Linked DNA regions of Homo sapiens: region 1 is linked to region 2. The links come from fine-mapping of genetic effects on gene expression. A gene starts in region 2. The other region holds a variant in brackets. All regions are shown on one strand. Distances are between the middles of the regions. Region 1 holds the start of LILRB3 (leukocyte immunoglobulin like receptor B3). Region 2 holds the start of RPS9 (ribosomal protein S9).

Evidence for each region.
Region 1: its variant is fine-mapped to the expression of RPS9 in nucleus accumbens (GTEx, PIP 0.97).

The regions. Positions count from the first base shown.
Region 1 is chr19:54,221,535-54,226,745 of GRCh38, forward strand. LILRB3 (leukocyte immunoglobulin like receptor B3) reads right to left here and starts at 1,473. Exons shown (of 13, transcript NM_006864.4): 1 at 1,409-1,473; 2 at 1,213-1,248; 3 at 744-1,028; 4 at 294-596. The coding sequence starts at 1,442. The region is part of intron 1 of LOC124904768 (a long non-coding RNA gene); the gene reads left to right. The variant T/C (reference allele first, on the strand shown) is at 3,260.
Region 2 is chr19:54,198,617-54,204,103 of GRCh38, forward strand. RPS9 (ribosomal protein S9) reads left to right here and starts at 2,242. Exons shown (of 5, transcript NM_001013.4): 1 at 2,242-2,272; 2 at 2,544-2,665; 3 at 2,871-2,993. The coding sequence starts at 2,569. RefSeq lists an enhancer at 1,630-2,299 and a silencer at 2,062-2,555.

The DNA.
Region 1 (5,211 bases), 23 kb after region 2:
AGGAGTGGGGTCTCCCTAGCCCTGGCCACTGTGCCTGATCTTTCCTCCTCTCCCTGAGAGCTGGGACCTCACAGCAAACACACCGATGCCTTCCTGAGTCCTCCCCTTCCAGGTGAACGTGGTCAAGGGCTCCTCCTCCCATGTCAGAGCCTCCCCATGGGGTCTCCCTCATGCCTTCAGCCCGTCCTTCAACACATCACTCTGGGTCCTTTCCAGATTCAGTCACCAGCCAAACTCCCCACAACCTGTCAGCTGCCCCGAAAGTGTGTTAGACAAGGCCGTGGCTCCCTCACCTGAGGGCAGAATCTCCAGGGGGTCACTGGGGTGGGACCACACCCAGGGGGTGTTTGTATAATAGTAATAGCATGTGAACCTCCACCTGTGGCTGGGGGTCACGGGGCCCACAGGGAACAGGGCCTGGAACCCCCCACTGTGGAGCTGCTGTGAGTCCAGGGTCCGGGGGAGCTGGTGTTCTCCTTCCTTCATCAGAACAAAATGGTGATATCCCTTCTGTGAGCCACATCGGAGGGTCATATTCCCCCCTGAGGCCACCACAGGGCTGGGCAGGGCTGAGAGGGTGGGTTTGTTGTAGAATCCTAGGAGAGAAAGAGGCACCGTGTTAAATGGGGCTCCCACCTCCCACATCATCCCCAGGGCTGGGCTGTGAGAGGGAGACGCCCCTGAGAGCCGACCCCCTTCCTGAGGGCAGAGCCTGGGGCTGGGACCCCAGAGTGTCCTCTCACCTGTCATCACCAGCTCCAGGGGGTCGCTGGGCTCTGACCAGCCTGCAGAGCTGTAATAGTGGCAGCGGTATCTCCCTGCATGGTGCTGTGTCATGGATGGGATGGAGAATCTGGCCTTGTTCTTGGGTTCCAGTGGGTTATTTCTGTCCCAGGGCTCTGGGCTTCCCTCTTTATCCAGTTGGTACTCCTGGGCCTCCAGGCTCCCCTGACACCAGATGGTCACGGGGCTCCCCCAGCTGATCACAGAGCCTGGCTCAGCCCAGAGGGTGGGTTTGGGGAAGGGCCCTAGATGGAAATCAGAGGCTGGATCCCAAGACATCCCCACGCTCAGATCCCAGCTCCCAGCCCCAGGACTTCCCCATCATCCCCATCAGTCACCCAGAACTACTGTCTCCTCCCCCAGCTGCCCATGGGTGGCCCCCTGTCCCAGTGAGGAGTAGGGACCTGGGACAGCTGGGGACAGACTCACCTGCCTGCATGCGGGTCCTGGGGCCCAGACTCAGCCCTGGAAGAGAGTTCCCTGTGAGGCATTTGCCCTGAAGCCTGAGCAGGTCCCCGCCCGGGTGCCTCCTGAGCTTTTGAGGTCTCCTGATGGACCAGGGCTTGTGTGTGGGGTGGGGTTCCTCCAAGACTCGGATCTCCCCCTCCCCATCTTGAAATCTCACCAAGGCAGAGCAGGGCTGTGAGGGCGGGCGTCATGGCGTCTCCTCCCGGTGACCCCGCGCTCTGCAGAGGGATGAGCCCTCAGTGCTGGCAGGACAGAGAGACACACAGGGTGTGGCCGCTCGGAGGCTGGGTCCTTCTTGTCATGGGGTTGTCTCATCCTCAGCCCACAGGAAGAGGAACTGCCACCCCAAGAACCTGGCTCTGATTTCCCCAGGGCTGAAGTGGGGGCAGGCACCAGGCTCTCTGCAGGCATTTCAGAGAGAAATGGGGTCTCCCTGCCCCCGGGCCACTGTCTGCCTGATTTATCTTTATCTCACTGAGGACGGGGACACAGCCGCAAATAGACCTGGTGCCTTCCTGAGTCAGCCCCTTTCAGGCGAGGGTGACCGTGGGCTCCTCCTCCCTCTCAGAGCCTCCCCATGGGGTCTCCCTCCCTCCTTCAGCTCGTCCATCAGTTCAGCGTTACGGGGTCCTTACCATGGCAGTCGTCTCTCCAGCCCTGGAGATGCTTCAGGGAAGACCCAGGTCCATGCTGCAGGCAGACTCAGATCAGCAGAGACGCACCTGACACCTGGCTGTGTAGTCCAGGCTGAGCTGCGTGTGGCAGTGAGCACAGAGAAATGCAGGGTCTACCGTGGTGGCTCATGCCTGGAATCCCAGTACTTCAGGAGGCTGTGGCGGGTGATGGCTTGAGGCCAGGAGCTTCAGACAGTCCTGGGAAACAGACTGTGACCCTGTTTCTACAGAAAAGAAAAAAGTGAGCTGGGCATGGAGGCTCATGCCTGTGGTCCCAGCTACTCAGGAGGCTGAGGTGGGAGGATCACTTGGGCCCGGGAGGCGGAGGCTTCAGGGAGCTATGATCACCCCTTGGCCTTCCAGCCTGGGCGACAGAGCAAGATCCTGTCTAAAAAGGAGAAATAGAGGGGATAAAGAGAAATATATATATATATGTTTCATTGTAATCTATAATCTGATTCTGGGGAAGGTGAGCTGATTTGTATTTAATTCCTGATTATCATCTAGGGTTTATGTGACTTTGGACATGAATGTCACCTCTGAGCCTGCTGTCATGAACCCCACTCATCACAGTGGCTGTGGGGGTCAGTGGTGCCCAGGACATGGGAGGCTCAGCCATGGTGAATTTCCAGACCAGTTCAGACAGGAGGGTGGGGACGGGAGAGGATCCTGGTGCTGGGCTCCACAGTCGAGGAGGATGATTGACGCCCCCACTCAAGAGCCCACATCGGCTCCAAATACCATGAAATTCTCCTTGTGATACGTCTGAAATATGCAGATCATCACAGCCACAGGCAGAGAAAGAGGAAAAACAGTTCCTCACATTGAGACGCATCCCCTTCCATGAGCAGAGTTCAATGCTGAGTGGCCACAGGTGTCTGGGACCACCGAGCGTCATTAGGGAGGAGGAGGCTCCCACCTCCATGTGGGACAGAAGAGGAACCCCACGTCCTCCCAGGCAGGGAGGGGTCAGGGCTCTGGGTGAGGCTGGAAGCGGTGGCTCCCCCTCCCCTGTGTGTGTGGACAGGCGCTGGGGGGTCTCTGCTCACTCACTGGAGGCCACGGTCAGCGCTCAGCCCCTCCCCTGTGTGTGAGAAACAGATTCGATCCACGGTGGTCAGACATGGGCGTCTGCCCCACAGGTGAGTGTGAGGCTGGCGTTGGTCCCATCGCTGCTGGGCACAATCTTGAGCTGACACTGAGTTTGGGGGAGTGGGGCAGGAGCAGCGGCAACAATCCCCTTCATCAGGCTGATGCCTGGACAGCCGTGGGAGAAACCCTTTATGAAAGGCCAGGTGCGTGGGAGGAGCCGCCCCACAGGAATGACAACCGTA[T/C]GAGGACAAAATAGACAGTTGTTGAAATGCATTAGACAGACATCGTGAAGGTGAAAAACTATATTAAATTAACGCCATTAAAAAGGAATTTATGTCTGGGCATGGTAGTTCATGCCTGTAATCCCAGCACTTTGGGAGGTGGAGGCGGGCAGATCACTTGAGGCTAGGAGTTCGAGACCAGCCTGGGTGACATGGTGAAACCCCATCTCTACTAAAAATACAAAAAATTATCTGGGCGTGGTGGTGAGTGCCTGTAATCCCAGCTACTCGGGAGGCTGAGGCAGGAGAATCTCTTGAACCTGGAAGATGGAGGCTGCTGTGTGCTGAGATTGCGCCCCTGTACTTCAGCTGGGACAACAGGAGCGAAACTGTGTCTCAAAAAAAAAAGCAATTTACTAACCATATATACCTACTATGCAAACATAACAAAATCAAAGCATAATTTAATCCAGGGCAAGACAGCTGAAATAATAAATATATACATTGGGATAAAATATTCATGAAATTTTCCAGACTGTATCATGGAAAGAACAGAAATTGAACAATAGAAAATATTGATATATACACGAAGTTGAATGAGAAGAAAGAACGTGTCTGTCACGGTTTCAGAATGAAAGAAGGAAGAAGGATGTTAGTTCATGATATGCATGAAGAGCTAATGGTTGAAATTTTTACAGAACTGAAGAGAAAACATCAGTTTATAACTAAATTGAATATCTCGATCATGGTAAAGTGAAAACCATGAGGCATTAATTTAAAATAATCATAAAACTACCAGAGAAAATGTAAATTACCCTTGAATGAATGACAAGTTCATCGGGACTGGAGTTCCAAAGAGCAAACAGCAGCCCCAGAAGATACAGGAGAAACAACCACAAGCGTTTAACTGTGAGGAGAGAGTTCCTGTGCTGGGCCTAATTATTACTATTATAATTATTTATTATTATTATTATTATTATCTTTTGAGATGCAATTTCGCTCTTGTTGCCCAGGCTGGAGTGCAATGGCGCGATCTCGGCTCACCGCAACCTGGCCTAGTTATTATTAAAGGACCGAGTTGCAGTGTCAGCTGTGGATAAATCCTAGAACATAAGGAGACTCGGGGCACTCGTGACCCGTCAGGTCAGGCGGTGGCCTTATGAGGAATAAGGAGGGCGTTTTCAGTGTCCTTTTATCAGGTACTATGATAACAACAGAGAAAGAGAGAGATTGAGACAGACAGAGAGAGACGGAGAGACAGAGAGAGATTGAGACAGAGAGAGAGAGGGAGAGGGAGACACACACACACACACACGGAGAGAGACAGAGACAGAGAAGCAGGCATCGCTTGAGCTGCAAGGCTGCAGACATGTTTGCATCTGGGCTCTTTCTGAAAGCAATACTAAACAATGTAAATCAGGGAGTGGAATAATGAACCCCAAATGGAGAAGATGAGATGCTACTGTGAATAAGTCAACAGTACATACAAAAAACGAATAAGCATAGATCTATCTGTAATCTGTGTATATACAAGTATATGCATTTCTACTAAGAATCTGAAAGAGCAAGGAAATGGATTCGCGTCTCTGGAGCCTCCAGAAAGGAATGCAGCCACGTTATGGCCTTGATTTTGTCCTAAAAGACTGTGAGATAATGAGTTTGTGTTGCTGAAGCTGCTCAATACGTGTAATTTGTTATGGCAGCAATAGCAAACCAATACTAACACAAACAGCCTTTGAAAAGAAAAATAGATGATATTTCACACTTTTATTTATTTATTTATTTATTTTATTTTATTTTGAGACGGAGCCTCGCTCTGTCACCCAGGCTGGAGTGCAGTGGCGCGATCTCGGCTCACTGCAAGCTCCGCCTGCCGGGTTCACACCATTCTCCTGGCTCAGCCTCCCGAGTAGCTGGGACTACAGGCGTCCGCCACCACGCCCGGCTAATTTTTTACTATTTTTAGTAGAGAC
Region 2 (5,487 bases):
ATTACAGGCACCTGCCACCACGCCTGCCTAATTTTTGTATTTTTAGTAGAGACCAGGTTTTGTCATGTTGGCCAGGCTGGTCTCGAACTCCTGACCTCAGTTGATCCGCCGGCCTTGGCCTTCCACATAGTGCTGGGATTACAGGCGTGAGGCACCGCGCCCAGCCTATATGGAGGTTTTCGGCTGAGCTGGGGGTCAGTGCCCCTCGCCCCCAGACTGTACAGAGTCAGCTGTGTTAAGATATTAAGCACCTTCAGTACACAAGACTCTGTGCTGGTTTTCTTTTCTTTTTTTTTTTTTTTTACTCTAAATCATCAAACCCTATGAGGAAAGTCCTGTTACTTTCTCCCATTTAGCACTCTTGAAGAGGCTAATTTGCCTAAGATCAAGAGCTCGTCAGTGACTGCTGAGGTTCAAACGCAGATCTTTTTTAAGACTTGAGAACCTACAGGTTCAACCACCATTATAAAACCATCTCTGTAATCACGAGGCACCCGGAATTTGTGGAGCTTGGACTTCATCCTGAAGGGAGTGAAAACTTATGGAAGTTTTTTCCTTCCACGTTTCCCCCTTCCAGATGAATAATATACGCGTGTTCAAGATACAAAAATGCATAAAATTTGGCCAGGCATGGTGGCTTACACCTGTAATCCCAGCACTTGGGGAGGCTGAGGCGAGTGGATCACTTGAGCCCAGGAGTTCAAGACCAGCCTGGGCAATATGGCAAAACCCCGTCTCAAAACAACAAAACAAACAAACAAAAAACCCATAAAACTGAACAAGGTAGTTTGTAAGATATGGAAGTACAATGCAGATGACAATAATGACGATGGTAGCTACCACTAGGCGCTTTATTTATGCCACTCTCCTCAACACTGGATAGACTCTCACTTAATCCTCACAAGCTTATGAGGTAGGCGCTACCATCATTCGCCGTTTTACAGAGGAGGACGCTGAGGCACAGAGTGATTGAGAAACTTGTCGAAGGCACTGCAGCTGGCAAGTGGTGACGTGGCATTTGAATCCAGGCATCCGGATGGTGTGGATGCCGTGGAAGAGAAAGGGGCGGGTGGGACTGCTTCCTGAGGAGATAGTGACTGCCGAGGCAGCAGCGTAGGGAAGACAACTGAAGAACACGAGCTGTGGAGACAGACCATCGCATTCGGAGTGGAGAGATGGGTGTACAGACAGACAATAACCAGACTATATATAAAAAGAGAACTCTAGGTCAGGCGCGGTGGCTCACACCTGTAATCTTAGCACTTTGGGAGGCTGAGGCGGGTGGATCACTTGAGGTCAGGCGTTGGAGACCAGGAGTTCAAAACCCCGTCTCTACTAAAAATTTAAAAATTAGCCGGGCATGGTGGTGGGCGCCTGTAGTCCCAGCTTCTCGGGAGGCTGAGGCACGAGAATCGATTGAACCCGGGAAGCGGAGGTTGCAGTGAGCCGAGATCGCACCACTGCACTCCAGCCTGGGTGACGAGAGCGAAAAACTCCGTCTCAAAAATAAAATAAATTACTGATAATAGTACTAATACCCCTTAAGTGGCTATTGATAATAATAGTACCATGGGTGGGGGGGCAACTTCTCTGAGAGTGCTCTGTAAGTATGTATTGAAGATTGAGTAAATACATTTAAAATTCTTAGAACAGTATGTGGCACATAGCGTTCCAGAATGCCACATTATTGTTAGTGACAGAAATAATCTCGGCTGGGCGCGGTGGCTCACGCCTGTAATCCCAGCACTTTGGGGGGGCCACGGCGGGAGGCTCTCTCGAGGCCGGGAGTTCAAGACCAGCCTGGGCAACATGGCAAGACGCCGACTGTTAAAAAAAAAAAATGCTACCCGGGCGTCGTGGCGTGTGCCTGTAATCCCAGCTACTGGGGAGGAGGTGGGAGGATCGCTCGAGCCCGAGAGGTTGGTCGGGGCCTCAGTGAGCCGAAATCACGCCACTGCACTCCAGCCTGGGCGACGGAGCGAGACCCTGTCTCAGAAAGAAAAAGAAAAACCACCGTCCAGGGGCGGAGAAGGAAGGTTCTCCCTACTTCTCAGGTTTCCACTCCCTGGCCGGAAAAAACCTAGTCCTCCCAGGTTAGCACGCCGCTCTAGCCCAGCCTCACGTCTCCACTGCTTCTCAGCCAGCCAACGCCTCTTCTGATTGGCTCTGACGTGCGTGGTGCGTGAAAACGTCACGAGACGCCGGCGTTACTATAAGAGCGCAGCCGTGGCGCTTCCGCGCCTCTTTCTCAGTGACCGGGTGGTTTGCTTAGGTGAGGTGCGGTGGTGTGCTTTTTCTCTAGGGTTTGGGTTGGATGGTGGCCCGGGCCTTCCGAGTTTCCATGAGTAAGCTAAAGACGTTAGGAAACAGAGCAGGGTGGTTGAACGGGAGTGCAGCACGGTTGTGGGGGCAGATACTGACTATGAGAGCGTTGGAGGTTATTCTCGCGAGATCGGATCTGGGCTCCGCGAGGTTTTGGCGTAGTTGTGGGACTGCGCAGGCGCCGTTTGGATCCCTTACGCTCACACTTCTCTCCCGCGCAGGCGCAGACGGGGAAGCGGAGCCAACATGCCAGTGGCCCGGAGCTGGGTTTGTCGCAAAACTTATGTGACCCCGCGGAGACCCTTCGAGAAATCTCGTCTCGACCAAGAGCTGAAGCTGATCGGTGAGTGGCCAAGGCTTCCGGGAAGTGGTTCGGCTTCCGGGAGGCGGTTAGCACGTGGATGAAGGTGCCCATGTACTCTATCTAGTCCGTCCCCTAAATTTGGTACTATTCGTGGTTTAGGAAGGTTTTGTGATTCCAAAGCTGCCAGTCTAGTTGTTGTGCCAGTACGTGGGACTACACTTGTCCACCCCCTTCTCCCCACCAGGCGAGTATGGGCTCCGGAACAAACGTGAGGTCTGGAGGGTCAAATTTACCCTGGCCAAGATCCGCAAGGCCGCCCGGGAACTGCTGACGCTTGATGAGAAGGACCCACGGCGTCTGTTCGAAGGTGCGTATGGGAGTCCACAGCAGAGGGATGGGGTGCAGGGCTTGTGAGGTTCATTCTCCCTTCTGTTGCCTCTGTTCCAGTGATGAGAGTTGTGTCATTGGATAAATGGAACCAGCCTTCTAACTTTTAGTGGCACTTGTGGAGTAGGAAAAGTGTATCTGGATCAGTCTTTGCCCTGTTTCTTAGGTGTGTGGCTTTTTTGCCCAGTTATTGGACCTTCAGTTTAGTAATGACCAGAGCTAAAGATAGGCCTGGCACACCTGGGCACCCGTCTATATCTTTATATTCTGTTTATGTGGCCTGTTTGCTAGTGGATGAGAGTAGACTATGAAGTGGAATTTCTGGGCTAAGTGATGGTGATAACAGGGTTTGCACATTTGCTTGGTTTATTGTTTTTTTAATTAAGTTTTCTCGTTTTATTTAGTCTTTTGAGACGGAGTCTTGCTCTGTTGCCCAGGCTGGAGTGCCGTGGCGCCATTTCGGCTTACTGCAACCCCCGCCTCCTGGGTTCAAACAATTCTCCTATCTTAGCCTCCCAAGTAGCTGGGACTACAGACAGGCGCACGCCACCACACCTGGCTAATTTTACTTTTGAGACGGAGTCTCGCTCCATTGCCCATGCTGGAGTGTAGTTGTCGCAATCTTGGCTCACTGCAAACTCCGCCTCCAGAGTTCAAGCGATTCTCCTGTCTTAGCCTCCTAAGTAGCTGGAATCACAGGCATGGGCCACCAAGCCTGGCTAATTTTCTATTATTAGTGGAGATGGGTTTTCACCATGTTGTCCAGGCTGGTGCTTGTTTTTTTAAGCTGGTCAAGGACATTTAGGTGGTATTTAGCAAAGGCCTGAACAGGAGAGAACCTGTAAAATGTCTCAGGGAACAGCATTTCAGGTGATGACTTTAGGAGGGCATGCAGATCACATAGACTTAGGCTTACTTTACTAATTGTGGTGAAATACACATTAAATTGAAAATGTACCATCTTAACCATCTTGTTTTAAAATCTACTCTGAGATGCGGTGTTATTGGAGTGCTTTCTACAGCAGATTGGCATGACCAAGATTGGCATTTGTATATCCTGAGACGCTGCTTTTGCCTGAGTTTGGGTAGTCATGATTTATGGTGAAAAGCAGTCTCTACACCTGAGCCCTGACTGTTAGGCATGAGAGTGGTCATCCATGTTAGGCGTTGAGAAAGTCCTGGCGCATGTTTAGCTACAGATTATCACAGTTTGTCCCAGGCTTGCAGATGTTAGAAGCTTTTTCTTTAAATAGGCACAGGATCTTGCAGTGTTGACCAGGATGGTTTCCAACTCCTAACCTCAAGTGATCCATCCACCTCAGCTTTCCAAAGTGCTGGGGTTACAGGTGTAAGCCACCGCACCTGACCCTTTCATTCTTTTCGTCAATTTGTAGACCCCGTTGATAATCTCATGAAAGTGCTGGAGATCCCTCCCCCATAGATACTGATGCTGGGTGGGAATTCATCCCAGGGTTCTGTGGGGAGTGGGCTATAGCTGGTTCTGGTTTTAGGGAGGACTTTCTGGACATAGATCCTAATTGCAATGAAACTTACAGTCATGTGAGAAAGCGGTGCAGGTGTCTGAGGGTTATTTGTGGTTTTCCAAGGCAGAAGTGAAAATTCCCAAGGGGTACACAGTTGTTCAGGTGAGTACACTTTCTAGTAAATGAAGCCATCTAGCCTAGTCAGGGACAGGAAGGAGGAGCTTGGATGTTTGCTCTTTGGTGTAATCCTGCCTTGATTCAGATCCTGCCTTTCCCACTAAGATGTGTGACTAGCGAGATTCTGAGTCTCGTCTGTTAAGACTGAACAGCCGCCAACATTTGGCTGGCAGTTAATAATCAACAGATAGAGGCCAGGCGTGGTGGCTCATGCCTGTAATCCCAGCACTTTGGGAGACCGAGGTGGTCGGATCACTTGAGGTCAGGAGACCTCAAGTCAGAGACCAGCCTGGCCAACGTGGTGAAATTCCATCTCTACGAAAAATACAAAAATTAGCCGAGCATGGTGGTGTGCCTATAATCCCAGCTACTCGGGAGGCTGAGGCAGGAGAATTGATTGAACCTGGGAGACAGAGACTGCAGTGAGCCGAGATCCGCGGCACTGCACTGGGTGACAGCGAGACACAAAACAACACGAACTCCCCCCCCACCCCCCAGCACAACTGTGAAGAAATGTAGGAGTCATGTCCATTTTTCAGATCAGAAATGAAGGCATTGTAATACCTAACTGCCTTGTATGATGACAAGGACCTGTTTCCCACTGAGGTCCTCCCTGGTTTGCATTTTTAAAGCATTTTAAATTCTCTTGGTGCATTGGCCCAGTGGAGCCTCAGCAGTAGGACATGCTTTTGTTGAAGGTGTAAGGTTTATTGTGCTGTTGAAAACTATTGTCTTCATACTTAAAGGTTTTGCCTGTGGCTGACTCTCCTGTTCTTTTTCAGGAGATAGATGGTTCAATAAATGTGGGCCTGA